4 separate regions of the Homo sapiens genome follow, and regions 1, 2 and 4 are each linked to region 3. Evidence: fine-mapped expression QTL. A gene starts in region 3. Each other region holds a variant in brackets. All regions are shown on one strand. Distances are between the middles of the regions.

Region 1 (8,105 bases), 370 kb before region 3:
GTGCAACGTATTCAGACAGAACAGCTGGATCATTTAACAGCTTCCTTGTTTTCCCCCAGAACATCCGCTGCGGGGGTGTCTCACACAGCATATCTACATGAAGACACGCAGGTGTGTGCCCCCGTGTGTTGCCTCATGAGACCCTGTGCAAAAGTCACCATTGTCTGAAAGCCCCACTTGTATCCTTTAATGTAATCTGATTCAAATTTCTTCCCCTGCAACTTCCCTCTTTTCCTCTTCTTACATAACATAGCTAAAAAACCTGGTGCTGTTTAATCATCTCAGATACCTTCCACTGGCTTCCTGTGATCTTCAAGTGATCTTGTGAGTGAGGTGTTTGGAAAGATGAGACAAAATGAGGAAGAAAGTCTAAAGAAAGCCCTGGAGAGAGCTGGAAAGAAAACCCTCAAATTCAGCGCCAATCATGGTGGCTCACACCTGTAATCCCAGCACTTTGGGAGGCCAAGGTGGGTGGATTGCTTGAGACCAGGAGTTCGAGACCAGCCTGACCAACATGATGAAATCCCTTCTCTACTAAAAATACAAAAATTATCCTGGCATGGTGGTGGGCACCTGTAATCCCAACTACTCAGGAGGCTGAGGTGGGAGAATTGCTTGAACCCAGGAGGTGGAGGTTACAGTAAGCCGAGATCACACCACTACACTCAAGCCTGGGCGATGCAGCAAGACCCTGTCTCAAAAAAACAAAAACAAAAGCAAATACAAAACTCAAATTCAGGGCACTGCATTGTTCTTGGCCCCATTATACAGATGAAAGAACTCTAGGGTCCAAAAGCTCAAAAGAACCTGTACTCCAACCCCAAACTCCTAGCTCTTATCATGCAACTCAACTGCCAGCATCACAGACAAAGCAAAGCTGGAAAAGACCTCACACATGGGGCTGCATGGTGCAGAGAGCATTGCCTCAGCCTCTCATGTCGGCTAGACAACACTGAGTTCAAATCCCTTTCCTGGGACTTAGAAGCTGCCGACTTGGGCAAGCCGTGTCAGCTCTCTGAGCCTCGGTTTCCTTATCTATAGAATGGTAATAATAACAGTATCTCGACCAGGCGTGGTGGCTCACACCTGTAATCCTAGCACTTTGGGAGGCTGAAGCAGGGGATCACCTGAGGTCAGGAGTTCGAGACCAGCATGACCAACATGGTGAAACCCCGTCTCTACTAAAAATACAAAAATTAGCTGGGTGTGGTGGCGGGCACCTGTAATCCCAGCTACTCGGCAGTCTGAGGCAGGAGAATCACTTGAAGCCGGGAGGCAGAGGTTGTAGTGAGCCGAGATCGTGCCATTGCACTCCAGCCTGGGCGACAGAACGAGACTCCGTCTCAAGATAGTAATAATAACAACAACAACAACAGTATCTCTCTCTCAGAGGGGTGTTGTGAAGATCTGATGAAACGAGACATGTAGAGTTCCGAAATGATAGTAAGGACTAGAAAATGTATGTTGTTGTTAGAATTAGTACAAAACTGAGGCCCAAGTTTACACAAATTAGGTAATGGCAGATCCAGGCTTAGCAGCTGGTCTTGCAGCTCTCACTCCAGCATATTATTTCCTTTTTTTTTCTTCTTGAGATGGAGTCTCGCTCTGTCGCCCAGGCTAGAATGCAGTGGCGTGATCTCAGCTCACTGCAACCTCCGCCTCCCAGGTTCAAGCGATTCTCCTGCCTCAGCCTCCTGAGTAGCTACGACTAGAGGGGTGCGCCACCGCGCCTGGCAAATTTTTTCTATATTTAGTAGAGATAGGGTTTCATCATGTTGGCCAGGCTGGTCTCAAACTCTTGACCTCAAGTGATCTGCCCGCCTCGACCTCCCAAAGTGCTGGGATTACAGACGTGAGCCACCGCAGCTCTTGTATTTTCACCAAGAGAGTTTCTTGCTACTTACTCTTCCACCAAAAACAGTGATAATACTAATTATTTTAGTTATTACAGCTGAGACTCTGTGTTCCAGATCCCATCTTAACACCTTACACCTGCTCATCAAATCATTGTGACAACCTTGTAACATAGGTCCCATCATTATCCTTAGTTTATAGATGAGGAAACTGAGGCCCAGAAAGCAAGAGAACCTTGCCCAAGGTCACACAGCTAGTAGACAGCAGGGCTAGGATGCAAAGGCAGGCAGCCGGCCCCAGAGTCCACCTTGTAATCTCTGCACTCACTGCTTTCCATTAAACTTCTTGGGGATTTACCGCAAATCATGGTTACTTTTCTTTACTATTATCTCTATATATATATCAATTGACTTTCACTTACACAAGTAATATGTGAATGAATACATTCTAAAAAACAAAAACAAAATTAGGGCATGACTGACAAAACTAAACTCTGCTTGGACATTACTCTTATTTTCCACTGTGAGTAGTTTGGTAAGAATCCTCTCAGCCTTTTGCCTACACGTTTACATATGTACTTTACTGCCACTTTGCATACTCTTCCCACTGGGCCTCTAGAAAACAGTAGCTGAGACGGCAAACTTGAGACTGAAGAAAGGTTGTGGGGGCTGGAGATGGTATCACTTTCTGTTTTCTGTAGATCAGTTACCTATAAATATTCTGAAAGCTTCCCGGCAGGTGACTCAGCCAATGGGCCAGAGAGTTGGATGCATAATTAGGTTTCCTTGGCTATCTGCAGAGACAAAACCAGAGAAGGTGGGCTGTCTCTATCCAATATGGCTGCCACTCACCAAATGGGGTTTTGGGCCCTTGAAATGTGGCTTGTCCGAACTGAGATGGGATATAAGTGCAAAATACCAGATTTTGTAGCCTTATACAAAAAAAAAAAAAGAGGATAACATAGCTCATGCTTTTTTAAAAAAAACCTTTCCTATGGTGCTAAATTAATTTCTTTTCTTTCTTTCTTTCTTTCATTCATTTTCTTTCCTTCCTTCTTTCTTTTTTTTCTTATTTCTATGAGTCAGGGTTTCACTCTGTCACCCAAGCTGTAATGGCCTCACAAGTAGCTGGGACTTGTGTATGTGTAATCACTTCTAGCTAATTTTCTTTACTTCCTTCCTTCCTTTCTTTCTTTCTTTCTTTCTTTTCTTTCTTTCGAAACAGGGTTTCACTATGTTGCCCAGACTGGTCTCAAATTCCTGGCTTCAAGCAATCCTCTCACTTTGGCCTCCCAAAGTGCTAGGATTACAGGCATGAGCCACTGCACCTAGCCTTGAAATACTTTCTTTTTTTTCTCTCTCTCTTTTTTTTTTTGAGATGGACTGTCTTGTCACCCAGGCTGGAGTACAATGGCATGATCTTGGCTCACTATAACCTCCACCTCCCAGATTCAAGCTATTCTACTGCCTCAGCCTCTCAAGTAGTTGGGATTACAGGTGCCTACCACCGTGCCCGGCTAATTTTTGTATTTTTAGTAGAGACGGGGTTTCACCATGTTGGCCAGGCTGGTCTTGAACTCCTGACCTCAGGTGATCCACCCGACTCGGCCTCCCAAAGTGCCAGGATTACAGGCATGAGCCACTGTGCCCGACCAGAATGCTTTCTTTATATTGATTACGTGTTAAAATGGTCATTTTTAAAATATATCAGGTTAAATTAAATATATCATTTAAATTAACTTCAGCTTTTTTAATGAGGCTACTGGAAAAATTAAAAGTCCATATGTGGTTTGAATTCTTTTTTTTTTTTTTTAAACACACTCTGTTGCCCAGGCTGGAGTGCAGTGGCGAGATCTTGGCTCCCTGCAACCTCTGCCTCCCAGATTCAAGCGATTCTCCCGCCTCAACCTCCCAAGTAGCTGGGACTACAGGCGCCCACCATCACACCTGGCTAATTTTTGTATTTTTAGTTGAGAGGGGGTTTCACCATGTTAGCCAGGCTGGTCTCGAACTCCCGGCCTCAAGGGATCCATCCGCCTTGGCCTCCCACAGTGCTGGGATTACAGGCGTGAGCCACCGTGCCCGGCCTTGAATTCTATTTCTAATGGATAGCGCTGTTCTAAACAGTTGCTTGAGGAGACACTATTTTAAAAAATTATCTGAGAATGGTAATGATAGTTCGATTGTATCAGGTGCTCTAAGATGAGGTTGCAGGCTAAACACTTCCCATTGCTTATCTCTTCCATTCCTTCACAACAGTTGCATGAGCTAAGCACTATTCTTACCTCCATTTTGCAGAGGAGGAAACTGAAGCTCAGAGAAGTGAAGTCATTTGCCCAAGGTCACACAGCCAGGAAGCAGCCAAGCAGCAATCTGAACACATCCCTCAAGGGATTAACCCTGTGGATGACAGGACAAGAAAACCATTCACAGGGACCCGCCTCAGAGATGAGTATAGTCAGAAGAAAGTCCTGGAAAAGCCAGGTTCCAATGGGATAATACAAGCCCATCTCATTCACAGCCCTTTTTTTTTTTTTTTTTT[TC/C]TTTTTGAGACGGAGTTTTGGGTCTTGGTCTGTCACCCAGGCTGGAGTGCAGTCGCATGATCTCGGCTCACCGCAACCTCCACCTCCCCGGTTCAAGTGATTCTCCTGCCTCAGCCTCCTGAGTAGCTGGGATTACAGGTGTGCACCACCACACCTGGCTTTTTTTTTTTTTTTTTTTTGAGACAGAGTCTCACTCTATCGCCCAGGCTAGAGTGCAGTGGCTCGATCTTGGCTCACTGCAACCTCTGCTGCCCAGGTTCAAGTGATTCTCCTGCCTCAGCCTCCTGAGTAGCTGGGATTACAGGTGCCTGCCATCACGCCTGGCTAATTTTGTATTTTTAGTACAGACGGGTTTTCACCATGTTGGCCAGGCTGGTCTTGAACTCCTGACCTCGTGATCCGCTCGTCTCGTCCTCCCAAAGTGCTGGGATTACAGGTGTGAGCCACCGTGCCCAGCTTAATTTTTGTATTTTTAGTAGAGATGGGGTTTCACCATGTTGGCCAGGCTGGTCTTGAACTCCTGACCTCATGTGATCTGCCCACCTCAGCTTCCCAAAGTGCTAGGATTACAGGCATGAGCCACTGTGCCCGTCCTCATCCACAGCCTTTTGGGGGTGGGGGTGTTGTTTTGTTAGTTTGGGGGCCAGAGGAGAAACCAATCAGACAATTCGATACCTGCTTCTCTGCCCTACCCATTGCAAGGCCCAGCCCCTGCTCTGAATTAATATGGAGTTTACATTTGAAGAGTAAGTGTTAGTTTCTTTTTTTTTTTTTTTTTTTTTTTGAGACAGAGTCTTGCTCTGTCGCCCAGGCTGGAGTGCAGTGGGGCATTCTCGGCTCACTACAAGCTCTTCCTCCTGGGTTCACGCCATTCTCCTGCCTCAGCCTCCCGAGTAGCTGGGACTACAGGCACCCACCACCACACCCAGCTAATTTTTTGTATTTTTTAGTAGAGATGGGGTTTCACCATGTTGGCCAGGCTGGTCTTGAACTCCTGACCTCAGGTGATCTGCCTGCCTTGGCCTCCCAAAGTGCTGCGATTACAGGCATGAGCCACTGTGCCTGGCCAAGCTAATGCATTATAATTAGTGTATAAGGAGCAGTCAGTATGACCAGAAGTCACTTTGATTGTCATCTTAGTTTTGGCAGGTTTTGGCTGGCTTCTTTACTGCATCCTGTTTTATCAGTGGGGTTTTTATGACCTGTAAAAATACAAAAATTAGCCAGGTATGGTGGCACACACCTGTAATCCCAGCTACTTGGGAGGCTGAGGCAGAAGAATCACTTGAACCTGGGAGGTGGAGGTTGCAGCGAGCTGAGATTGTGCTGCTGCACTCCAGCCTGGATGACAGAGTGAGACTTTGTCTCAAAACAAACAAACCAAAAACTATATATCTATCTATCTATATCTGTCTAGATAGATAGATAGATATAGCAGCAATGGCTGCTTCCTGGCCATGTGACCTTGAGCAAATGACTTCACCCCTCTGTGTGTGTGTGTGTGTGTGTGTGTGTGTGTGTGTGTGTGTGTGTGTGTGTGTTTTAATATAATGCATTAGCTGCTAAAAGACACTCCCACCAGCACCACAACAGTTTACAAATGCCACGGCAACGTCTGGAAGCTACTGACAGAGCAGGAGCACTGTAATCTCTGACAAACAGAGATTTGTTAAAGCAGCTTAAAGCTGCTTTAAGTTCCAGCTCCCTTTCCAGCTTCATTCATTTCAAGGAGATCACTTCTCTTCTAACTACAAGCAGCCAGAAAGAGCAGAGAGTAAAACACAGATAAGATAGCTCGGGCACAGAGGGATGTGGGGGGAATGTCTCTTAGGTAACTGCCGAACTTCACCCTCATACAATGGGCCCCAGTAAAACAGTGGGCCTTAAATAAGCATATTCCTTTCCCTTCAGGTGCACTAAGATAGGGAAGCTAAAAGTAGACTCAGAGGATATGCCTGCAGCTGCAGGAAGATGTTTGGCAACAAACACACAACTCTCCCTCCCAGATAAGCACAACAAAGAGACACAGAAGCAGCCCAAGCCTCTGATAAACTCTCCCACCCTGAATCCTTAAAAACTCTTAGTCTGTAAGAGAGTGTGCCTTTGACAACTCGCCAGAAGCTCCTCTCAGGTTTGTTTTCTCTAAAATAAACCTGTCTTGACTGGTGAGCCACCTTTCATGTTTCTTTCCTCTTTCTTTAATTTGTGTTGGTCTAAAAGGAAGAAGAACTCTCAGTTCCAGGAAATCCCTCCCCCTTTCCCAAAACACCTATGAATAATCCATCCCTTTAGCATATGATCAAGAAATAATTATAAAAATAGCCAACCAGCAGCTCTCACAGCTTCTCTGTTCGTGGAGAAGCTATTATTTTAATTTTAATTTTTTTTTTGACACAGAGTCTCACTCTGTCACCCAGGCTGGAGTGCAGTGGCATGATCTCGGCTCACTGCAACCTCCGCCTCCTGGGTTAAAGCGATTCTCTTGCCTCAGCCTCCTGAGTACCTGGGACTATAGGCAGGTGCCACCACGCCCAGCTAATTTTTTGTATTTTTAGTAGAGACAGGGTTTCATTGTGTTAGCCAGGATGGTCTCGATCTCCTGACCTCGTGATCCACCCACCTTGGCTTCCCACAGTGCTGGGATTACAGGCGTGAGCCACTGTGCCCAGCCTTTAATTTGTTTTAATTTTTTTGAGACAGGGTCTCACTCTGTCACCCAGACTGGAGTGCCATGGCACAATCTCAGCTCACTGCAACCTCTGCCTTCTGGGCTCAAGTGATCCTCCCACCTCAGCCTTCTGAGTAGCTGAGACTACAGGCACATGCCACCATGCCCGGCTAATTTTTTTGTGTGTGTGGAGATGGGGTTTTGCCATATTGCCCAGGGTGGTCTTGAACTCCTGGACTCAAATGATCTGCCTGCCTCAGCCTCCCAAAGTGCTGGGATTACAGGCATGAGCCACTGCACCTGGCTCATTCTTTTTTTCTTTTCTTTACTTCTCTAATAAATTTGCTTTCACTTTACGGACTTGCCCTGAATTCTTCCTTGTGCGAGATCCAAGAACCCTCTCTTGGGGTCTGGATCAGGACTCCTTTCCGGTAACAATTGCAGCTCTGTGGTAGTGATATGATCTTATGATTACCTTCCAGCCAATGGGATGTACACAGAAATGGTATGTACAAGTTCTAGGAAGTGTCCTTAAAACTAAGGGGCATGCTCTTTGCTTCCCCTTTGCAAGCTTCTCTCTGGCTGGAATACACACATGACGGCAGGTGCTACAGCAGCTGTCTTGTGTCTCAAGAGGGCTGACAACTGTTGAGGATAGCATAAAAATAAGATGGAAGGAGCCCAGGTATCTGATAATTATGGAAGTGCCATTGAGCCCAAGTCTGCCCATATGTACTGTGAACCCCGAAAATTTGAGACAGGTCTCAGTTAATTTAGAAAGTTTATTTTGCCAAGGTTGAGGATGTGTGCCCATGACACAGCCTCAGGAGGCCCTGATGACATGTGCCCAAGGCGATCAGAGCACAGCTTGGTTTTATACATTTTAGGGAGACATGAGGCATCAATCAACATATGTACGATGAACATTGTTTAGGTCCAGAAAGGCGGGACAACTGGAAGTGGGGGAAAGAAAGGGGCTTCCAGGTCACAGGTAGGTGAGAGACAAATAGGGGGCATTCTTTTGAGTTTCTGATTAGCCTT
Region 2 (8,105 bases), 240 kb before region 3:
TGGTGTTCACAGCTGTGTTTCCAGCACTGGGCATCTGGATTTGTCCACCAGAGGAATTCTCTTGCTGGTGACCAGGCAGGTGCATGTGAGGGCAGCTTGACCTCCCAGAGGCCCAATCTCCCCTGACTGTGGTTCCTTGTCCCCTTCAGGTATTCCACTACATGAGCATCACCATCTTGGTCTTTTTTATGATGGAGATCATCTTTAAATTATTTGTCTTCCGCCTGGAGTTCTTTCACCACAAGTTTGAGATCCTGGATGCCGTCGTGGTGGTGGTCTCATTCATCCTCGACATTGTCCTCCTGTTCCAGGAGCACCAGTTTGAGGCTCTGGGCCTGCTGATTCTGCTCCGGCTGTGGCGGGTGGCCCGGATCATCAATGGTACGTCTCCTGCACTCCCAGGCTGTGGATGGAGAGTAGGGGCCCAGGCATACATCCAAGGCCTGACTGCGCAGTCACTCTGGGTGCCTGAGCTCACAGTGGCTCCTGTTATGGAGGCCTCCCCTCTGCCCCCTCACCTCCCTCTCCTCCCTTCTTCCTCTTCAGCCCTTTAGGAGCTGGTTATAAGCAGGTTTACGTCAAGCAAATAAAATGAAACAGGTTGGGTGCAGTGGTCATGCCTGTAATCCCAGCACTTTGGGAGGCTGAGTCAGGAGGATCACTTGAGCCCAGGAGTTCGAGACCAACCTGGGCAACATGGTGAAACCCCCATCTCTACAAAACAAAAAATACAAACATCAGTTGGGTGTGGTGGTGCACACATGTAGTCCCAGCCACTGGGGAGGCTGAGGTGGGAGGATTGCTTGAGCCCAGGATTTGGAGGCTGCAATAAGCCAAGATTGTGCACTGCACTCTAGCCTGGGTGACAGAGCCAGACCCCATCTCAAAAAAAAAAAAAAAAACTGGACTCTTGTCAAAGGAAAGAAAAAAAAGCCTTTCAGTTCCTACAGAAGATGCCTGTTATGGGGAAAGGGGGCATTTCCCAGCCTGTGCTTTCGTGGCATCTATGGACACCGCTGTTGTGCACCCACATGATTGTGAACAGGTTCTAGGTTAAGAATCCTAATGCTCATCTTGTCAGTGATTATTTTTAAGGATTTCTCAGCCATGCCAGCTAAAGAGAGATACTGTGTAACTGGGTACTAAGTAGCTCAGACACAAAACCCTGACCTCCCAGTTCTGATGCCCTAAAGTGATGACTGTCTCGCGTGTCTGTCACCACTCCTCCAAACTCTATACAGGTGTAAGAATACAGATTTTTTTCCTGAGTGGTTAAGTTAGAAACCAGTATCACTGAGACCCCCAATTTTATTTCAGGGATTATCATCTCAGTTAAGACACGTTCAGAACGGCAACTCTTAAGGTTAAAACAGATGAATGTACAATTGGCCGCCAAGATTCAACACCTTGAGTTCAGCTGCTCTGAGAAGGTAAGAAAGACGACACATCTGGGGACCAGGCGTGGTGGCTCATGCCTGTAATCCTAGCACTTTGGGAGGCCAAGGCAGGTGGAGCACCTGAGGTCCGGAGTTCGAGACCAGCCTGACCAACATGGAGAAACCCTGTCTCTGCTAAAAATACAAAATTAGCTGTGCATGGTGGCACATGCCTGCAATCCTAGCTACTCAGGAGGCTGAGGCAGGAGAATTGCTTGAACCCGGGAGGTGGAGGTTGTGGTGAGCCAAGATCGCGCCATTGCACTCCAGCCTGAGCAACAAGAGCAAAACTCTGTCTCAAAAAAAAAAGATATCTGGGAAGCTGGCCTCTGCCGCAGCACCCGCCTGCAGCAGAGCGCTGCTCATGCACCTAGAGCGCCCTTCCCTGGGCTGAGCCTGCCTTGTCCTTTCAGATCCAGCCCAGGCGTCACATCCTCCCTGAAGCTGTGCCCACCCCCACATCCCAGGGCTCTGCCAGGTCCCCCACGTTTGTCTTCTCACTGCTGTCACTGCTGCTCAGTGAAGCCTATCTGATTGTAGCAGTCTCCTCAGCAGACTGAATGCCACAAACAGCGTAGCTTTCATTCATCTCTGTGGTCCTGTGCCTGGGGCTCACTGAATGATTGATTGTCACATCCCTGGCGAGGCTCAAAGTAAATTCCAGTGTTTGTCTGCTTTTGCAATAGGAACAAGAAATTGAAAGACTTAACAAACTATTGCGACAGCATGGACTTCTTGGTGAAGTGAACTAGACCCGGACCAGCTCCCCTCAAAAAGAAGACACTGTCTCATGGGCCTGTGCTGTCACGAGAGGAACAGCTGCCCCTCCTGGGCCGCTTGGTGAGAGGTTTGGTTTGATACCTCTGCCTCCCTCCTGCCAGCATGGATTCTGGGTGGACACAGCCTTGTGGAAGGTCCAGTACCACCAAGAGCTGCCCATCCACTCCCACCCCACACTGTATCAAATGTATCACATTTTCTCATGTTGAACACTTTAGCCTTAATTGAAAATGAGCAACAAAGCTGGACAATTGCTAGTTGTATATAAAATTTAATCTCACCGAATGTACAGTTTTCAAATTTCACGTGTATATTAAGGAACTGATGCATCTGAGCATTCTGAAAGAAAGAAAAAGAAGCTACTTTAGCTGCCACCCCATTCTAGAAAAGTCTCTTATTTTCAAGCTGTTCTAAATAGCTTCGTCTCAGTTTCCCCAAAAGGGGTACCCAGGCCCCTCCTCTGTGTGCCCCAGCTGCATCAGCCAGCTTCTAGGTGGCTCCATTGTTTTCTGCCACCTGACAACATTTTTCCTCAATTACTGTACAACTACTGTATAAAATAAAACAACTACTGTATAAAATAAACTCTCTCTTTTCCCTGGACCCTCCTACTGTATTCTTTCCTCTGTGGCACCCATACCAGCCTGCCAGTCGGAGAGCAAGCTAGCTACAGTGCCTGGTGCAGAAATGGCAATTAGACCCAAGACTCCACTATAATTAACAAGGTATTTGGGGGAAGATCCCCTTGTAAGGGCTGTGTGCTCTTCTCGCATGATTTTATCTAATATTTTGCTATTTTTTTGTACTCATTTCAACCGGACCCAAAAAGGAAAAAACCTGAACTGAGTATTTTTAAAATAAATAACTCAAAGCAGGGGATGAATGAACTGGCCAAATCCCCCTTGCCTCTGCTGCTTCAAGTCCTGTTCATGTTCTTTACCATCTCCCCAAAGACTTTTTGGGTTCTATCATCTATGACCTATGTGTTAAGCATATTCCCCATTCAAAAGTCAGATAGAATAACATTTCCAAAAGGAAAAAAGGCAGGAAGGGAGTGGAGAAGGGCAGTGTGCTGGTTTGGAGGCAACCTCAAAGGTTAGAAGTATAATAAGGCTAGGCATGGTGGCTCACACCTGTAATCCCAGCACTTTCAGAGGCCGAGGCAGGAGGAGCACCTGAGCCCAGGAGTTTGAGACCAGCCTGGTCAACACAGCAAGACCCCATCTCTACAAACTATATTAAAATTAGCCAGGTGTTGTGGT[G/A]TGCACCTGTAGTCCCAGCTATTAGGAGGCTGAGGTGGGTGGATTGCTTGAGCCCAGGAGGTCAAGGCTGCAGTGAGCCATGATCACACCACTGCACTCCAGCCTGGGCAACAAAGCGAGACCCTCAAAAAGTATAAAATGCAGTATCCCCTAGGGACTTCTAGCCCCACGTGCACACTTTCCAAAGGGGATGACCTCAGAGGAGGGGCGTAGTTTCCTCACTTACGTCAAACAAACGGGAAGAAGAAGTTAAAGGGCAGCCTGGCATTGATGGCTGGTGGAGCTCTGAAGCCTGCCTCTGCAGGTGCAGACACATCCACAAAAGTAACCGCAGTGGAAATAAGAATCGTCCTTTCATTTCCTGAGTTGGCCTGTAATAAACAGAGAGATGCAAGGCCCACCCTCCAGTGTGCTCCCAGAATGACAACAATGAGACACTTTTCATTCTCTTCCTCACCCAACTACTGTCAGTTCATGAATCTGATAGGTCCTGGAGCACTAATTGGCCATTAACTTGGATGAGAGAAACAATTTTACCAGGGTGTCTGATTAACACGTGAATATCATAATTTTCATGAGAATTTTAAAGATCCAATCTGAACCAGAATGCTAATGTAAGTAGAACCATCGTCAGTGTTTCTAAGAATGACTGCTGAAATATTTTATGAACCCCCATGGTTTAAATTATAATCTTTTTCACAAAGTAATACCTGTCACCTACCACACTTGAGTTGTGTCTAGACTTCTGTCTTAACCTATGCCTTTAAACTAGGTTAGGCCTACCTCAGGAAAGGAGGATGAAATTAGATTTGCAGTTACATTGACTATTTTGGCCTGTGGATTCAGCAGGGATCCGTATTTAGTCCACTTCACTTCTATAACCAAAGCCCCTGGGAGCTGGCAGGAATCCTGCAAAACAAAATGCTGTTAATCCATTAGAATCTTACAAAACTGCAAGTCAGACTTAATCTGCAGTTCAGAGTTTTAATTATAAAAGGTTTCACATATTACAAAATGTTCTGAACAAGAAAATGAATAGACTCTACAAGTTCAGATAAAAACAGCTTAGAGAATATACGTGTTTTAAAGTAACTCAATGCCCCAAAAATATTTTTAACAGCTGAAGCGTAATTTTTCCATCTCCTCCTATTTCTAAAAATGCCGACATCACCTGAAACTGCGGTAGTGCCAATACCCAACTGTGGACCATTTAGGGCCATAACTGCTCTAACTTCATCTACCTGTTTATAGCGGCCTCACAGACTTCAGGAAAGAAACTGGTGGGAGGGATGGAGGGGGAGAAATAATTATTAGCAGACAAAACCTGATTGCATGTCATGTTAAAATGCTCTAAGGGGAAATTTAAGTGCTTTCTTTTCATTTACCTAATTTCATCAATTGGCAATTAAGATGTGACATCTAGGTAATCCAGGCAGTGTCCGTATGTTGTCAAAGACATCAACTCTTCAACTGCATCAGGAACACTGCTGGTGCCACGAAGGAGCTGAGCTGCCCCTTTGGTTGGCTGCTTTGGCAGCCAGCTCTAAGGCCTCTGACCCAAGGGAAAAAGGGGCCGTGGGCTTTCCAGGGCTTTTTCCTGCCTTGGCAGTCTCTCCGGTTGGCAAATGTGGTAACTGTTGAAGCTGCAGGCTGGGTACGTGGGGACTCCATGGTACTATTCTACTTTTGTGTGTGTCTGACATTTTTTCATTAAAAAAAAAAAGCTTTAAAATACATCTCTTCAGGATATGAAAACCTCACAGGCCTGCTAAATTTGGTGGCTGCGAAAAAAGCACTGATGGAATTCCTTAGCTTGGAACCGCCTTTAAAAACCATGCAGACTGAACAATCCTCTCGAATACCCTGTTCTTAGGAGACAATGCAGCATGCAGCTGGTGGAAACTGAGTTTAGCAGGTGCTCGTGCCTGCCTCTACCTGGGTTGCCGGCAGAGTTGGTACAAAACCTGCTGCTGCAGGCCCTCTGAGCACCCAGGATCAGCACAGACCCTGACGGTGCCATGTGCGCACTGCTGCCTCTCCTCCCAACCCATGTCTTCCCTTCTGAGGAGGAGTAATAACTGCACATCTTCACCCATGGCCAAGAAGCCAGAAGCGATGTGCCTGGTTCTGGTGGGAGAGTTGAGTCAAGACTTCGCAGTGGAACGGCAGGGACTGAGTAATCCCGGGTCTCTGCTGGCCTCGGTGGGAGGGCGGATCAGAGAAGTGAGCAGTCCTCACCCCCGTTATGCCCATGCTAGAAATATTCGGAGCGGATAATGAGAGGTCTGAAGAAAGCGTGACAAGAACAAGCTGGGCAATTACAGGCTAAGATGGAGAGCACGCCCCTGGGCCAGGGCCGGCCCACACGCTGACTGCTAAGACAAAAGAAAAAGGTGGGCAGAAGCATCATGTGTGACCGGGAACCTATCTGTAGGATTGTCAACTTCCATTCAACTCTGTGAGGAACTGTGGCAGTGAAAACTCTCAGGTGTGGGCTGCCTGTGTAGAACAGGGGACAATGGGTGGGAGAGCCACATGCACGGAAGTCAGTCTCAGTCTTTGATACAGGACTCAACATTCGTCTATCGTGTCATGAGATGCCTGGAGAGGGCTCGGGGGACACCAGCAATCACAATGATGGTAGCAACAGGATGAGGATCACAGAGGTTCCCATTTATGGACCACTAGGCACCATGCCCAGGGCCACATAAATGTTACCTCACTTAACCCTCTCAATGCCCCATGAGGCCATTCACTCACTATTGACTAGCGTTCCCATTTCACAGATGAAAACAGAGGCTCAAAGCCATAAAACTGCTGGCCAGAGGCAACATTGCTAACAAGGGGCAAAAATCAGTATCCAAGATTCAGCCCGCGCTCCCACTCAGGGCCATCCTGCCTCCTTAACAGCTGGCTTCCCCGGCTGCCTTCATCACACCACCTGGAAGACAGAGACCACTAGCATGGAACCTGTACCTTCTCCCCTTTACCTTCCTGTTGAATGACTGGGTGATGAAGTGGATGGGCACCCAGTCCAGCATGTCCTGGGCCTGGGAATTTCCAAAAGGGGCCACGTAATCTGGGAAGCCCTGGCCCCACAGCAGGCTCTTCACCTTCTGTGCTACGAGCTGACACGGGAGAGCTCCAGTCAGTCTTGGTGAAGGAAAAAGAAGTCAACTGAATGAGGCTGTTGTTCATCCACCAGCAGTTTTTCATTTTCTTCTTCCTTTCCTTCCCTTTGTTTATTTATTTTTGAGATAAGGTCTCACTCTGATGCCCAAGCTGGAGTGCAGTGGCACCATCATAGCTCCCTGCAGCCTCAAACTCCTGGGCTCATGCAATCCTCCCAGAGTGCTGGGACTACAGGAGTGAGCCACCACACCCAGCCCACCAGCAGTTTTTTGTTTTTTAAGTTTTGATTTTTGGTTTTTTTGTTTTGTTTTGAGATGGAGTTTGCTCTGTTGCCCAGGCTGGAGTACAGTGAGGCAATCTTGGCTCACTGCAACCACCGCCTCCCAGGTTCAAGTGATTCTCCTGCCTCAGCCTCCTGAGTAGCTGGGACTACAGGTGCCCACCACCATGCCTGGCTAATTTTTTTGTATTTTTAGTAGAGACGGGGTTTCACCATGTTGGCCAGGCTGGTCTCGAACTCCCAACCTCAGGTGATCTGCCCACATCAGCCTCCCGAAGTGCTGGGATTACAGGCGTGAGCCACTGCTCTCAGCCCCACGAGCAGTTCCATTCCTTCCCAGTTTCATTATCTTCTCATTCTCCAAATGAGGGATTATCTGACAGAAGCTAAAGAGTCTCTAACTTTGCAAAATCTTTACCTGTGAGATGATGAGTCTAAAACAGTGTTTCCCAAACTGTGTTCCACTGAAGATCTGTACAAGAAGGGTTTCATGGCCAAAGTTGGGGAAGCATTGAACCTCCACATCCCCATGTCCCTCCTGAGGCACATTTGCCTATTAAAGGCTCTGATGAGTAATACAGGAAGGAACCATTGTTTTAACTTTAATTTGGTGTTTCCCAAACGTATTGGACCACAGACCTACCCCTACTGATGTCTTGTGGAAATGTATTCCATGGAACCCTCTCCCTTTGAGAAATGCTGGTCTAAATGGATCAGAACTAATAATGTAAATGGTGGCTGGATGTGCTGGCTCACACCTGTAATCCCAACATGTTGGGAGGCTGAAGCAAGAGGAGCACTTGAGCCCAGGAGTTCGAGACCAGCCTGGGAAACAAAGGGAGACCCTGTCTCTACCAAAATTTTAAAAATTAGCCAGGTGTGATGGTACCCGCATGTGGTCCCAGCTATTAGGAGGCTGAAGCAGGAGGATTGCTTGAGCCTGTAGGCCAAGGCTGCAGTGAGCCTGATCACGCCACTGCACTCCAGCCTGGGCAACAGGGGGAGACCCTGTCTCAAAAAATAATATAAGTAAATGGTAAATATTGGTCTAACCAAAATAATGATCCAATGACCCTGGGAAGATGTGGGAAGTGTGTGGGTCATGAGGTAGGGGATGAAGGGGAAAGAGCCAAACCTTTGTCTTCCTTAATGGAAACAATAAAAAATTCATAAAACCAAAAAAATCAAGAAGTAGCATTATATGCAGGTTATTTC
Region 3 (8,105 bases):
GGGCTGTACTGCCGCAAGGCTTCACAGACAGCTCCCATTACTTTAGTCAAGCCCAAATTTCTTCCTCATCCATTACCTATCTTGGCATAACTCTTTGTGAAAACACACATGCTCTCCCTGCTGATTGTGTCCAGCTAATCTCCCAAACCCCAATCCCTTCTACAAAACAACAACTCCTTTCCTTCCTATGCATTGTTAGGTACTTCCACTTTTGGATACCTAGTTTTACCATCCTGACTAAAACGTTACATAAACTCACAAAAGCAAACCTAGCTGACTCCATAGATCCTAAATTTTTTCACCACTCCTCTTTCTGTTCCTTAAAAACAGCCCTAGAAGCTGCTCCCACACTAGCTCTCCCTAACTCATCCCAACCCTTTTCATTACACACAGCCAAAGTACAGGGCTGTGTGGTCAAAATTCTTGCACAAGAGCTGGGACCGCACCCTGTAGCCTTTCTGTCCAAACAACTTGACCTCACTGTTTTAGGCTAGCCCCCACATTATTCCGGATACCACACCTGACCCACATCACTGTATCTCTCTGATCCAGCTGACATTCACTCCATTTCCCCATATTTCCTTCTTTCCTGTTCCTCACCCTGATCACACTTGGTTTATTGATGGCAGTTCCACCAGGCCTAATTGCCACTCACCAGCAAAGGCAGGCTATGCTATAGTATCTTCCACATCTATCATTGAGGCTACTGCTCTGACCCCCTGCACTACCTCTCAGCAAGCCGAACCAATTGCCTTAACTCAGGCCCTCACTCTTGCAAAGGGACTACGCATCAATATTTATACTGACTCTAAATATGCCTTCCATATCCTACACCACCATGCTGTTATATGGGCTGAAAGAGGTTTCCTTACTACTCAAGGGTCCTCTATCATGAATGCCTCTTTAATAAAAACTCTTTTCAAGGCCGCTTTACTTCCAAAGGAAGCTGGAGTCATTCACTGCAAGGGCCATCAAAAGGCATCAGATCCCATCGCTCAGGGCAACGCTTACGCTGACAAGGTAGCTAAAGAAGCAGCTTAGCCTTCCAACTTCTGTCCCTCACGGCCAATTTTTCTCCTTCTCATCTGGTCACTCTCACCTACTCCCCCACTGAAACTTCTACCTATCAATCTCTTCCCACACAAGACAAATGGTTCTTGGACCAAAGAAAATATCTTCTTCCAGCCTCACAGGCCCATTCTATTCTGTCGTCATTTCATAACCTCTTCCATGTAGGTTACAAGCTGCTAGCCCTCCTCTTAGAACCTCTCATTTCCTTTCCGTTGAGGAAATCTATCCTCAAGGAAATCACTTCTCAGTGTTCCATCTGCTATTCTACTACTCCTCAGGGATTGTTCAGGCCCCCTCCCTTCCCTACACATCAAGCTCGGGGATTTGCCCCTGCCCAGGACTGGCAAATTGACCTTACTCACATGCCCCAAGTCAGGAAACAAAAAAACCTCTTGGTCTGGGTAGACACTTTCACTGGATGGGTAGAGGCCTTTCCCACAGGGTCTGAGAAGGCCACCGCAATCATTTCTTCCCTTCTGTCAGACATAATTCCTCGGTTTGGCCTTCCCATCTCTATACAGTCCGATAACGGACCGGCCTTTACTAGTCAAATCACCGAAGCAGTTTCTCAGGCTCTTGGTATTCAGTGAAAACTTCATACCCATTATTGTCCTCAATCTTCAGGAAAGGTAGAATGGACTAATGGTCTTTTAAAAACACACCTCACCAAGCTCAGCCTCCAACTTAAAAAGGACTCTGTCAAGGATAGAGCCCCAAAACTCACCAACCAAGCAGGTAATTATGCTGAACCCCCTTGAGCACTCTCTAATTGGATGTCCTGGGTCCTCCCAATTCTTAGTTATTTAATACCTGTTTTTCTCCTTCTCTTAATTCAGACCTTGTGTCTTTCATTTAGTTTCTCAATTCATACAAAACTGCATCCAGGCCATCACCAATCATTCTATACGACAAATGCTCCTTTTAACAACCCCACAATATTGTCCCTTACCACAAAATCTTCTTTCAGCTTAATCTCTCCCACTCTAGGTTCCCACACACCACCCCCAATCCCACTTGAAGCAGCCCTGAAAAACATCGCCCATTATCTCTCCATACCACCCCCAAAAATTTTCGCTGCCGCAACACTTTACGACTATTTCGTTTTATTCTTCTTGTTAACGTAAGAAGACAGGAATGTCAGGCCTCTGAACCCAAGCCTGCATGTGTACATCCAGATGGCCTGAAGTAACTGAAGAATCACAAAAGAAGTGAAAAGGGCCGGTTCCTGCCTTAACTGACCCCTGACCTAGCAACTGATGTTATCTACAGATTATAGAAAGACATTGTGAAACTTCCCGGTCTGTTTCACTCTGACCACCGGTGCATGTCATGTACCCCCTGCTTACTCAATCGATCACGACTCTCTCACGCGGACCCCCTTAGAATTGTGAGCCCTTAAAAGGGACAGGAATTGCTCACTCGGGGAGCTCGGCTCTTGAGACAGGAGCCTTGCTGATGCTCCCAGCCGAATATACTCCTTCCTTCTTTAACTTGGTGTCTGAGGAGTTTTGCCTATGGCTCGTGCTGCTACCATCCTGCCTGCACCCAGGTGAAACAAACAGCCTTGTTGCTCACACAAAGCCTGTTTGGTGGTCTCTTCACACGGACGCACATGACAGTGGTGGCAGGCGCCTGTAATCCCAGCTACTCGGGAAGCTGAGGCAGGGAGAATTCCTTGAACCCGGGTGACAGAGGTTGCAGTGAGCTGAGATTTTGCACTCCAGCCTGGGCGACAAGAGCAAAACTCCGTCTCGAAAAAAAGAAAAAAGAAAAGTTCACAGTGATGATGCCCACCAAAATCAAATAGAAGGTCTCACACATCCAGGAAACTAGAGTAGGGGATGAGATGGGAAAAGGATCTACAGGAGCTTCAACTGTGACAAAATGTTAAGAGCTGAAAAAGTTGCTGATGAAGATACACTGTGATTTTTTCAGAGCATTTTTTTTGCATCTACTACTGTAAAAATCAAATGAAAACAAAATCTAGACCAAAACGACTGTCTCCTTTAAGAAAGGAGCGATAGGCTAGATCTGAGAGGATGACTGTGGAGAATATTCGGACTCTGACTCAACGACCTAAACTGCCTCATTGGCTCAGTTACCTCCCTGGTCCCTGTATACATTTGAGTTTGCGATCCAACATAATTAACCAGTCGATCTGATTCCAAGTCAACCATTTAACAACCTGAGCACAAAATTTAAGCAGGCAGTTTCTTCCCTTGTGGGAAGGGAATGACAACTTCAACTTTATGGATTGTTGTGAGCGTCCCAATAACTTGTGTAAAACTTTCCTAAAACGTTAAGTGTGCCAGACACATACTGGTTTATATGGGTATCAGCTAATTCCTGGATCCAGCCTTTATTTCCACGGATCTAGGGAATAATTTTACATGGGGAAATATACCCCTCGAACCAAGGAGTTCCCCCAGGGCCGAAGCCTGACTTGGCAGGAACACAAAACACCTGAGGAGGGGCGCGGCGGCCCTAGCCTGGTGCGCATGCGCCACTGTAAAGGCCGTTAGGTCTGTCCCTGGCGCCCGATTAGAATATTTAATTCCAGTTGGAGCGTTTTTCCTCACCTTACTGTATTTTATTTCGGTAAATACCCACACATTTTAATTTCTGAGAGGCACAAATTCCTCTCAGACTCATTCAAATTGACCGAGTAGTCTTATAAGGTGCCTTTTGTCTCATTGTAAATCCTCAGTAAAGTTTGCAGTTTAGGATGATAACGTGATTTTTGCGTAAAAATAACAACTCATTTCACCTGAAAAGGACCACGACAGGAGCAGGGACTCGAGTTTCTTTTTATTCGGGCACTTCAGTAGTTACCTCTTGCTTGGGGGTGGTGCCGCGTGTGGACCCGATGGACCCCGGCGACGCCGCCATTTTGGAGTCTTCCCTAAGGATCCTCTACCGGCTTTTCGAGTCAGTGCTGCCGCCGCTGCCCGCGGCTTTGCAGAGCAGGATGAATGTGATAGACCACGTGCGGGACATGGCGGCCGCGGGGCTGCACTCCAACGTGCGGCTCCTCAGCAGCTTGTTACTTACAATGAGTAATAACAACCCGTGAGTTGAGGCGGGTAGCTGCCTGGGGCTGAGGAGAAAGCGGCGGCGGTCTGGGAGCGGGGGCTCAGGGCACGTGGGAACAGGCGGGAAGGAGCGGCCGCCGGCGCCAGCGGAGGCTCCGGGGTCTGCGAGGGCGTCCTGGAGCGGAGCAGACTTCGGAGCGCAAGTTGGGTTCACTGGGTGCCGGCGTCAAGTCCCGCGGGGATGTGGCGAGCGGCGGCTTGGAGACATAGAAGGCAGAGGCTCTGAGGACGACCCAGGCGAGGGTTTCCTGAGGCACCTGTCGCGGGGCAGCGCGACTGTCACATCGCTAGGCTGAATCCTTCCCTCTCGGCTCCTTCCAGAAGAACGTTTTTTTCTCTCGCTGCAGCTCAGGGACCCAGCCTCCTGGTTTTTATGCGCTAGCCCCCGCATCTGAGATTGGTCCCCCCGTTAAGTGTATCAGGAGGGTCCACTTTCTGGCCTTGGGAAACCCCTGAAAACGGGGCCGGGCGCGGTGGCTCACGCCTCTAATACGAGCCCTTTGGGAGGCCGAGGCGGGAGGATCGCTTGAGCCCAGGAGTTCAAGACCAACCTGGGCAACATAGGGAGACCCTGCCTCTACGAAAAGTAAAAATTAAACAATTAGCCGGGCGTGATGGTGCGTGCCTGCGGTCCCAGCTACTCGGGAGGCTGAGGCAGGAGGATCGCTTGAACCCAGGAGGTCGAGGCTGCAGTGAGCCGTGATCGCATCATTGTCCTTTACCGTGGGCGACAGAACGACTGCCTGTCTCAAAAAAAGGAAACGGGAGACTCCATTAATGGGTGGGCGTGGCGCCTTTCATGTTTCCTTGAAGCACTGAGCTGATTCCATCCTTGAGTGCATGTCCCTCTCCTGCTTAATATCCTTTATTGGCCGGGCGTAGTGGCTCATGCCTGTAATCCCAGCACTTTGGGAGGCCGAGGCGGGCGGATCACGAGGTCAGGAGATCGAGATCATCCTGGCTAACACAGTGTAACCCCGTCTCTGCTTAAAAAATACCAAAAAAATTTAGCCAGGCGTGGTGGCGGGCGCCTGTAGTCCCAGCTACTCGGGAGGCTGAGGCAGAAGAATAACGTGAACCCGGGAGGCGGAGCTTGCAGTGAGCCGAAGTAGCACCACTGCACTCCAGCCTGGACGACAGAGCGAGACTCCGTCTCAAAAAAAAAAAAAAATCCTTTATTGCACTTATGAAAATTCTTTCCCATGGCCTCTGAAGGCAAATATCTGCCCTCCACTCTCTGCGACTTCATCTCATTACTCTGTTCACTGCTCTCTAGCCTCCCTGGCTATTCTGTTATTTGTTTTTATTTGTTTATTTATTTTTATTTTTTTGAGACAGCCTCGCTCTGTCGCCCATGCTGGAGTTGAGTGGCGCAGTCTTGGCTCACTGCAGCCTCCGCTTCCTGGGTTCAAGCGATCCTCCTGCCTCAGCCAACCAAGTAGCTGGGATTACAGGCGAGCGCCACACGCCCAGCTAATTTTTGTTATTTTAGTAGAAACAGAGTTTCACTATATTGACCAGTCTGGTCTTTTTTTTTTTTTTTTTTTTTTTTTGAGACGGAGTCTCGCTCTGCACGATCTTGGCTCACTGCAAGCTTCGCCTTCTGGGTTCACGCCATTATCCTGCCTCAGCCTCCCGAGTAGCTGGGACTACAGGCGCCCGCCACCGCACCCAGCTAATTTTTTTGTATTTTTAGTAGAGACAGGGTTTCACGATGGTCTCGATCTCCTGACCTCGTGATCCGCCCGCCTCGGCCTCCCAAAGTGCTGGGATTACAGGTGTGAGCCACCGCGCCCAGCCGACCAGTCTGGTCTTCAACTCCTGACCTCTGGTGATCCCGCCGCCTCGGCCTCCCAAAGTTTAAGGATTACAGGCGTGAACCATCGCTTCTGGCCTCTTTGTGTTATTTGAATGCACCAAGCGTGTTCTCTACTCTGGGCCCTTGTACTTGCTGTTCCTCCTGCGACGGTCCTCATCTCAGCGTTGCCTCCTCCTTCAGGTTTTAGCCTGGATATCTCTCCTAAAGAGCCTTCTCTGACTCCCAGGACTCTCGGGTACTCCCACTTTTCTACCCTTCGCATCACCCACCAATTGAAAGCGCAGTGGCTGTGCGCAATAAGCACTCACATGCTTATTGAGTGTGTTGAGGAAGTGAGTACAACCTCAGGGAGGTGAAATACCCTTGTCCAAGTTCACACATCCAATAAATGGAGGAGTACGATGCCTGGACCTGGTCTTCTCTGACTGGAGAGTCTCCATTCTGAGCCACCAGTCTGCTACCTCCAAATGGCGTTATAATGGAAACTTTTACTCTGTAGATGTATTAGTGTTTGGCCTGCTGTAGAAGCTGGTCTAGGTCAGAAGGGAAAAGTCCTTTAAGTGCTTACAATGCAGCTGCTGCTGCCCATTGGATTTTCATTAGTGCACTTTGGTGTTTTGTTTTGTTTTGCTTTTCAGACGGAGTCTTGCTTTGTTGCCCAGGCTGGAGTGCAGTGGTGCGATCTCGGCTGACTACAGCCTCCACCTCCCAGGCTCAATCGATCCTCCCACCTCAGCCTCCTGAGTAGCAGGGATTACAGATTCGCACCACCACGCCCAGCTAATTTTTTTTTTTTTTTTAATAGAGATGGGGTTTCATCATGTTGGCCAGGCTTGTCTGGAACTCCTGACCTCAAGTGATCCCCATGACTTAGGCCTCCCAAAGTGCTTGGATTGCAGGCGTGAGCCACCGAGCCCAGCCTCATTAATGTGCTTTGGACCTTACTAGTGAGACCCACATTTTGCCACCATCCACTTCATGTTGACAGGAGCCCTGGTCTCTGTCAGCCTTATGTGTTTATGCTGGAGCCTTTCACTTGGTTCTGAGTGATTTGCCAAAGCATACAGTTTCCACGTTTGGAGATTTAGGCCCTAGTTACTCTTAGTTCTTAAAGATGTTACAGGATAGTTTGAAACAGTTTAATTCTCTGGCTAGACGAAGTTTAGCCCATGCTTTTTCATATTGGGTTAGATTGGCAGTTTCCTAGCTTCAGGACATGTTTAAGTTCTGACCTTCATGATTTATACTTTAAAATTTCTTGTGGAATAGGAATAGACACTGTTAAATTCAAACAGTGGAGAAGGGGCATGCAGATCAGTATCTTTACCTGAGTCTTGAACCTCACCCCAACATTTCCTTTCTCCAGAGGCAATAACTATTTTTTCGTGTGTCATTACAGAGATAACTTAATGCATGTGTAAGTAGACATGTATCTTATATGCATATCTGAATGCTTTCTGTGGATGTAATAATACTTTTGTATCTAAGCATCAAATGGTTATTTCTCACTACATACATAGAATCACAGAGTTTGAAGAGAACTTAAGTCATCTAGACTATACTCTTTTTGTTGTTTTTTTTCTGTTTTTCTGGGGAGACTGAGTCTCACTCTGTCGCCAGGGCTGGAGTGCAGTGGCGTGATCTCGGCTCACTGCAACCTCCGCCTGCTGGGTTCAAGCAGTTCTCCCTCAGCCTTCCAAGTAGCTGGGATTACAGGCGCCCACCACCATGCCTGGCTAATTTTCGTATTTTTAGTAGAGACGAGGTTTCAACATGTTGGCCAGGCTGGTCGAACTCCTGACCTCAGGTGATCCTCCCTCCTTGGCCTCCCAAAGTGCTGTGATTACAGGCGTGAGCCACCGCGCCTGGCCCCTTTTTTTTTTTTTTTTTGTCTGAGACAGAGTCTCTCTCTCGTCACCCAGGCTGGAGTGCAGTGGTGGGATCTTGGCTCACTGCAACCTCCACCTCCCAGGTTCAAGCGATTCTCCTGCCTCAGCCTCTAAGTAGCTAGGATTATAGGCATAAGCCACCGCACATGGCCACAATAATGCAATTCTGTGGGTTTTAGTGTATTTACAAAATTGTATGATCATCACCATGATCTAACTCCAGAAGGTTTTCAT
Region 4 (8,105 bases), 450 kb before region 3:
AACTTTCCTCCAAGGTCACTCAGTGCGAAACTCCAACCATCACTTACTACTGACTCGCAATCTTCTGCTGGTTTCGGAACTTAAAAGACTTCCGGCTTTCCACCATCTTCCTGAACTGCTGCCTTAGCTTCCGGAGCTCTGCCTCCGCCTGCTGCTCTTTGGCCTTCTCCGAAGGTTCCTGGGGAGTGTCGGAGTCTTTTCTCCTGTTCTTCTTCAACTGGGGGAGATGGAGAGGAGTGGGAGGCCGTAGTGGGCCAGGTGGCTAGAGAAGCCCACAGATGGGCTTAAGAGTGAAGGGCAGTGGGGGTGGCTGGGCCATGGCTAGAAGTGGAAGACCTTCCCTTGGGTGATGTCAGCTGCTTGTCTATTACATGGAAAACCCACCCTGGCTTGCTAGGGTGGAGAGATGACTGACTTGTAATTGCATACTGTGGTGAGGGGAGGGTATTCTTTGGGGTTCTGGGTTCAAACTCTGACTGTGCCATCTAGTGGGAACTTGGGTGAGTCACTGGATGTCTCTGAGCCTCCAGCCTCCCACCTACAAAATGGGTGAGCACAGATCTGTTTGTCAGGATGAGACGAGCTAACGTGTAAAGTGGATGGCACAGTGCCTGACCCCATAGTAGGTGCTCTGTGGCTGGGAGCTGGCATCACCTACCACAGACATCTTGAAGGAACCGCACTTTGCCTCCACTCAGACACTGTACCCAGAGAGCTCAAAGCCAGTGAGCCTTCCTCTCTCTCTCTGTCTCTCTGCAATGCCCTGTTCATGGTGGCAAAAGGAAGAGAACTTGTAAGCCACCCCTGCTGGGGGTGCAGGTCAGAACGGCACCTCCTCCCTCCCCCTGCCATCCCTTCCTCCACCCACACCTTGGCACATGAGGAGGATACCCAGATGGCTGCCCGGGTGTGACAAAAGGCACTTATTTGTTTTAAAGCAATGTTTGCCTGGAACCTGGTTCTCTCACCATTTATTATTAGGAGCTGGGCAGATGGTTCTGGCGTGTCAGTTACCCTCCTGCTCCCTGTGTACCCAAAGAGGGGGCAAAATGGCATCAGGGGGCCGGGCATGGTGGCTTATGCCTGTAACCCAGCACTTTGGGAGGCCAAGGTCGGTAGATCACTTGAGGTCAGGAGTTCGATACCAGCCTGGTCAACATGGTGAAACTCTGTCTCTACAAAAAATACAAAAAAATTAGCCAGGTGTGGTGGCACACACCTGTAATCCCAGTTACTCAGGAGGCTGAGGCAGGAGAATTGCTTGAACCCTGGAGGCAAAGATTGCAGTGAGTGAGCCGAGATCGCGCCACTGCACTCCAGCCTGGGTGACAGAGTGAGACTCCATCTCACAAAAAAAAAGGCATCGGGGCAGTGTGTCCCCTGATGGGGTTAAATAGAAATGTGCCCAACTTCAATTGCAGCTGTCAGGGAATCCCCACCCTCCCATCTTAGAGCAGGAGTCAGTATTCTTATCATGTCACCACTTGAACTTCATCTAGCCCATAGTTATTCAGAGCAAGGGACAGCATTAATCCCACACATCACATCCTTTGAGGTTGTGAGACCCACTGCACAGCCAATTCCAGACTGCAGGAGCTGGGTTCCAAAAGCAGAAATTCCAGCTTTGCCACCATTGAGGGTCCTGCAATGCAATGGTTTAAAGCATTGGTTGTGCCAATCATCAGATCTCATTTCAAATTCCTCCAAAGCCACTTATTAACCTCGGGCAAGCCACTTCAGTTCTGTAGTCCTCATTTTCCTCACCTGGAAAATGGGAGAAATTCTAGAAGCCATGTCATTGAGTGTGTAAGACACTCAGCACTGTGCTTGGGACGTAGTAAGTGCTCAGTACACAGTGGCTAGGATGATATGGCAGGATATGGATTGTTTCAGAGGGCGAAGGTGCAGGGTGGTGAATGTTGATGAGGGTGAGAGGGGTGTTCCTCTATCTCCTGGTAACAATACCCTGAAGTTCCCATGGGAAGCCACACCTTCCTGCACTCCTGGGGGCTGACCATACCCCACCACCTTCAAGATTGGGGCATCCGACTCTGGATGGGAGAATCAGAGCACCAGATCCCAGTCAATCTGCATGATCTCAGCCCTCTAGCCTGGGATTTCTTCGGGGGTGGATGGGCACATGAAGCTAGCTAGTCCAACCAGAGTGAATGGTGGAATTTAAGCTGGAACACTCAAGAAGAGAGAGACTTTGTTTCCTGCTGCACTTGAACCTCGGTGGATAAGGTCAGGAGGGGCTGACAGCCATCTCGCCTCTGCAAGAGGCTGAGAACCAAGCTAAAATGGAGGAGAGAAGACAAAATGAAGACAGACTGAATCTTGAGGCTTGAGAACATCATCCAAGCAAGCACCAGCATTTAGCCAAGCCTGAACATACCTCTGGGTAATGTCCAATTACAGAAATCAGTATATTCCATTAAAGCAACCTGAGATGCATTTTCTATTGCTTGCAACCAAATGAGTTCTCATACCTGAAGTACTTACATCTATTTAGCACATAAACTGAGCCCCCACTGTATGCTACACACTGTGGAATTCAGTGGTAAGTCAGCCTGCAAAGTGCCATAAATCCTGCCTATGACAAAATAGTAAAAAAGGCTCCACAAAGAAGATGACTTTTAACTTGGGTTTTGAGGAATGAATAGGAGTTCACCAGGCAGAGAAGAAAAGTTGGAGGTTGGGGGCGTATTCTGGGCAGAGAGAACTGCTCGGGCAAAGGGTGAGAAGGAAGTGACTGAAAGGAGTGTTCAGAAAACGATTTGCGCTCAAGTATAGGCAGTATCTAGTGGAAAGTGGCTAGCAAAGAGATCTGTAAAAGACTGGACGCTGCTCTTTATTTTTATTTATTTATTTACTTATTTTTAGACAGAATTTCGCTCTTGTTGCCTAGGCTGGAGTGCAACGGCACAATCTCGGCTCACTGCAACCTCTGCCTCCCGGGTTCAAGCGATTCTCCTGCCTCAGCCTCCCAAGTAGCTGGGATTACAGGCATGCACCACCATGCCCGGCTAATTTTGTATTTTTAGTAGAGACGGGGTTTCACCATTTTGGTCAGGCTGGTCTCGAATTTATGACCTCAGGTGATCCGCCCACCTCGGCCTCCCAAAGTGCTGGGATTACAGGCGTGAACCACCACGTCCAGCCTGGATGCTTCTTAAAAGCAAGGATGAGATAGATCAGCCTGGAAGAGATCAGTTCATTGCCTCCCCAACAGTCGCTTCCCTCCATGTGGCATTGTTGTGTGAGTTAGCTGCCCAACCAGGGCTTCGCCTCCCTGCTCCTCTCAGATCCAGGCAGGGCTCTCTGATGAATTCTCACCAATGGGATGTGAGCAGAGGGGAAGTCTGTCACTTCCAGATCATGACTTTTAAGAAGTGGATGTGACCTTTCCATCCTTTCTTGCCTCATCTGACATTTACAGGAGGCAGAGCCACAAGACAGGTCCCCAGATCTACTTGTAGAAGAAGTCATCTGCCAACCATGAACATCCTCATTGGGCTGTTACACAAATGCGAAATTAACTTCTGTTGTGTTAAGCCAGTGAAATGTGGGGATGTATTTGTTATAGCAGCTAGCATGCCTCAGAGAATACCCTAACTTCTTTCTGCCTAACACAAATCTGATTTTGTACCCCTTCAATGTGCCCAGTCCCAGAGGATGACTCATGATTGTTTCCTGCTAATCATGGTAACCCCACTTCCCTTTGTCAATGATTGGTCTAATGATAGACATGTGACCCAGATATGGCCAATGAGACATAAGGAGAAGTATATTCCATTCCTTTGGGACAAAAAGTGAGAACTTGGGCCGGGCGCAGTGGCTCATGCCTGTAATCCCAGCACTTTGAGAGGCCAAGGCAGGCAGATCACTTGGGGTCAGGAGACTGAGACCAGCCTGGCCAACATTGTGAAACCCCGTCTCTACTAAAAATACAAAAATTAGCTGGGCATGGTGGTGGGCACCTGTAATCCCAGCTACTCAAGAGGCTGAGGCAGGAGAATCACTCGAGCCTGGGAGATGGAGGTTGCAGTGAGCTGAGATCGCACCACTGCACTCTAGCCTGGGCAACAGAGTAAGACTCCATCTCAAAAAAAAAAAAAAAAAA[G/AG]GAAATAAGAGCTTGTTCGTGTTCCTCTCTCCTTCTGCTTTTAGAAATTATTGTGAAGGCATGCATGATGGTTCAGTGGCAACCCTCCCATGACCATGAAGAGAAATATCACCGTCACACCTAAAGACAGCAAAGAGGAAAGACAGGAAAAAATTTAGGTTCTAACTGACACTGTTGGCTACTGCCCCATCCCTGGAACTGCCTACCTCTAGACATCATGTTAGGTGAAATAGCAAGAGTCACTGTTGTTTAAGGCAGTCACCAAATATTTTGTTCATTGAAGCCTAAAGCATTCCTAACTGACATGGTCCATACCTTGAAAATGGTTCTCAGGTTAATGGGTGATAGGAAAATAGTGGCTGGTAATGTAGGAACCTCTGGATTTTCCCTGATGTTTTTGAGGGTTTGGGGGCCAACTGAATTGTCTGATGTTGGGAAATTCCCACAGGCAGGGAAGTGGTATAAGACAATGGTTCTGTATCTTGATCATTTCTGGAAGGGTCCTCCAGGTAGGAGTAGAAGCTGTAGGAGGATTTACCTGACTAACAAGGTTTGGGCACAGGATGCTCTCTCTGGGACCTCTTTCAGCCCTGGAATTTGGGGCAGCTCCAATTTCATATTGTCCAGGAGCTGTTCTATGTTCCAGGGCCCTTTGGGTCCTAAGTGGATTTGTAATGCACCATCTTAATAACATGAACTGGGTATATCTGACCTTCACTGACAGTGTGATTTGACCTCTCTGAGCTTCAGTTTCCTCATCTGTAGAATGGGGATACCCACACCCATATCTCAGCGCAAAATAATGTCTGTAAAGTGGTTAGCATAGTGCCTAGCTCATGACAGACGCTGGGCGAACGTAGCCTGTTTGTGAAGTGGGATTTTCAAGTACCAGTCTGTCTGGCCCATGAGATCATTGGCTGGGTTATGCACCATTCTCCAGGAACCAAAAGCTCCATCACCTCCTGCCTTTTTGCTGATCCATATGCGCATACATAGTCACTCTCCCCTAGGGTGCTGGCTTCTCTTCAGGTTCCAGATGTTAACCCAGGCCTTTCCCTTTCGATCAGTGCCCTCTGGGATGGGCTCCTACATTCCCTGGGGAACAGATCCACCCCCTCACCCCCATCCTCATAGCTTGGCCTGCAGAGCATCTCCTGGATGTCCTGACCCCTGGCTTACCACCCTCTCATTCAAGGGTCTGAAACTCATAGTCCATGGGGCCAATTCAACCTACCTCCAGTTCTGTTCCACAGTGTTTCAAAACATAAATGTGGGTCATGCACTCACTCTCCTGGCCACAGGCCCCACTCCTCCCTATTGGCTAAGCTCCCCTCCCCACAATTCTCACATTTTCTGTAACTGCCTAGAGCCAGTAGGAATTTGAATTTGCAGTTCCTGTTAGGAATCTAAAAGCTGCCCACTTCTGGGGAACAGCGTGTGCGAGGAAAAGTGCAGAGAAGCCCAGCAGCCCAGGTCAGGGGACGTCAGGCAAGGGCCTCCTGCCCCTTGGGCCTCAGTCTATTCACCACAGCATCCATAGTCCTGGGCGCATGGGCAGCTCTTGGCAAATACAGTTTGAATGAATGAAGTTTCCTCCAGGCAGAGATCATCTTCATTTATCTAATATCTAATTAGGCCTGCACCTCATCTGCTTCTGAATTTTAACAACCTGCCTTTAAAAGACAAGCCTGCCCCCGAAGGATTCCCTAGGGACCTTGGGACAGGCAGCTATGTGGATCATATTGAGCCAGGGCTGCACAACCTGGAATTAAACATGTGCTTAGGGCACTAGCCAAACAGGAGCACAGAAACACATACACAGTTTTTTGTTGTTGTTGTTGTTTTTCTTGTTTTTTGTTTGTTTGTTTTGTTTTTTGTTTTTTAAGGATTATTATGGGAGGAAAATAAAAATTTGTTGAACTTTTTTTTTTTCCTTTTTTGAGAGCGTCTCTCTCTCTCTCTGTCACCCAGGCTAGCGTGCAGTGGTTCAATCTCGGCTCACTGCAGCCTCAACCTTCCCGGGCTTAAGCGATCCTCCCCCTTCAGCCTCCCAAGAAGCTGGGACTACAGGTGGCACCACCACGCCCGGCTAAGTTTTTAAATATTTTGTAAAGACGAATTTGCCCGAGCTGGTCTCGAACCCCTGGGCTCAAGCGATCCTCTTGCCTCAGCCTCCCAAAGTGCTAGAATTACAGGCATGAGCCACCTCGCGCGGCTCTGGAGTTATTTTACACACTACAATTTATTTATGCATGATTGCGGGAGACCCTGATACTTTCAACGCTTAGGGCAGCGAGATATGAATGGACTGGGGACCGCGACCGCTCTTTCCTTTTCCCTGGCAGGGGGAGCTGTGGCGCAGCAGGCGCGGCCGGGCGGGCGGCGAAACTTACCAGTGGCGGGGCCCGGACTGCTTGTCCGTGGCTGCTCCGGCCGCTTGTCCGACGGCTGCTGCAACTGCGCTTCCGACGGTGCCGGGAGGACTGCTTGCTGCGCGGCCTCGCTGCGCCACACCCCCAGCCCCACGCCCGGGCGTTCTGGGACCCCTGGAACGGGCGCCTTTGTGACTCGCACAAACATGGACGTTCTCCCCTGCAAGTCCGCTGGGAGGGCACAGGGCCCTCGGGAGGAGAGGACAAGAGCAGCTGGTTGGAGGGAAGCTTTTGGTTGGGGGAGAGGGGCGACACACTCTCCAGCGACCCCTTACCAGACTACCCGGACCCTCATGACGCTAAGTGACTTCTTGAGTCAATCAACAGTCTTAGCCCCTCCCTCGGCCAACGCCATGCAATCGCTGGTCCACCTCGCCCCACTCACACCCCATTCACCGTCTTCTTAGCCTACACCTACACTCATGCTCACAGCAGCCCTGCTAGGTACAGACTTCACACGCAGCTAACTCAAAGGAGCCCAGTTTTTTCTACTCTGAAAAATAAAATAAAGTAAAAATAAATTAAAAAAAAATGTTGGGGCGGGGGGGGAAAGAGATATTTCATGAGAAAAATAACTTCATCAGTGCAGGAGAATTTTCTTCAGAACATCCACCTGACCCCCACCCACTGTGAGCATAACACGGGAACCCAAGTGTGATCCAGGCAAGTGAGCTTTTCACTGCCCTAACGGAGTTTAGTGGTTTAAAGATACACATTTTTCATACAATCGGCCCTGAAACACAAGTCAACTACTTTCTCTGGGGCTAAGCTCTAGAAACAATCACAGAATTAATGGAAAATTATTGGGGGTACCTGTTTTCTACAGTAATTTTGATTCCATGTGATTTCCACTTTAACTCCTAGCCCCCTGAGTGGATTGTAGTAGCTCAGCCCTGCTAAGGTCTCCACTTCATCCGTAAATTCTTGGGACAGGATGTGTGTTTTAGAACTTACCATATTTTGGAGGCCAGGTGCGCTGGCTCATGCCTATAATCCTAGCACTTTGGGAGGCTGAGGCAGGTAGATCATTTAAGGTCAGGAGCTCAAGACCAGCCTGGCCAACATGGTGAAACCCTGTGTATTTCTTTTTTTTTTTTTTTTTTTTTTGTATTTCTACTAAAAATATAACAAATTTAGCCCGGCATGGTGGCACACACCCGGTGGGTGCCTGTAGTCTCTGCTACTCGGGAGGCTAGGGCAGGAGAATTGCTTGAACCCAGGAGGCAAAGGTTGCCGTGAGCCAAGATCACACTCACTCCAGCCTGGGTGACAGAGTGAGACTCCGTTTCAAAAAAAAAAAAAAGAACTTACCATGTTTTTGGTTTCAGAAAGATAATATGGTACGCAAGGGAGTATGTTGCCCCTAATGTTGCTGGCAGCCACGTTGTAACCATGAGGGAAGTCAGTGGGACAGTATATTACATACAGGGTTCGGGCCACACAGTCCAGATCAAACGAATTACTGTTTCTGCAAGGAAACATCAATATTCATGTCAAGTAAGATAAGGATAGATTATGAACAGCTACATGTCAGGCCTTGCCTCCAAATG

Direction of the effects. Positions count from the first base shown, and alleles are read on the strand shown. Sizes are in standard deviations (SD) of each study's normalised expression. Not every link is listed here.
For the expression in skeletal muscle of the gene that starts at base 3,959 in region 3, C is the low allele of the variant in region 1 and TC is the other (large effect, 1.1 SD a copy in FUSION).

The links.
Region 1: its variant is fine-mapped to the expression of ANAPC7 in skeletal muscle (FUSION, PIP 0.95).
Region 2: its variant is fine-mapped to the expression of ANAPC7 in subcutaneous fat (GTEx, PIP above 0.99).
Region 4: its variant is fine-mapped to the expression of ANAPC7 in whole blood (INTERVAL, PIP 0.94).

The regions. Positions count from the first base shown.
Region 1 is chr12:110,771,095-110,779,199 of GRCh38, reverse strand. No RefSeq gene overlaps it. Among named protein-coding and RNA genes, the nearest start is that of PPP1CC, 32 kb to the right of the region's middle. RefSeq lists an enhancer at 2,403-2,742. The variant TC/C (reference allele first, on the strand shown) is at 4,396.
Region 2 is chr12:110,643,493-110,651,597 of GRCh38, reverse strand. It overlaps TCTN1 (tectonic family member 1), which reads right to left. Exons shown (of 15, transcript NM_001082538.3): 12 at 6,469-6,631; 13 at 4,262-4,402; 14 at 3,705-3,849; 15 at 2,168-2,555. The coding sequence ends at 3,706. HVCN1 (hydrogen voltage gated channel 1) reads left to right here. Exons shown (of 8, transcript NM_032369.4): 6 at 150-381; 7 at 1,318-1,430; 8 at 2,123-2,912. The coding sequence ends at 2,188. Among named protein-coding and RNA genes, the nearest start is that of TCTN1, 33 kb to the right of the region's middle. RefSeq lists an enhancer at 3,535-3,594. The variant G/A (reference allele first, on the strand shown) is at 3,479.
Region 3 is chr12:110,399,562-110,407,666 of GRCh38, reverse strand. It overlaps ANAPC7 (anaphase promoting complex subunit 7), which reads left to right and starts at 3,959. Exons shown (of 11, transcript NM_016238.3): 1 at 3,959-4,140. The coding sequence starts at 4,040.
Region 4 is chr12:110,845,517-110,853,621 of GRCh38, reverse strand. It overlaps CCDC63 (coiled-coil domain containing 63), which reads right to left and starts at 6,635. Exons shown (of 12, transcript NM_152591.3): 1 at 6,517-6,635; 2 at 659-763; 3 at 48-217. The coding sequence starts at 667. RefSeq lists an enhancer at 1-673. The variant G/AG (reference allele first, on the strand shown) is at 4,124.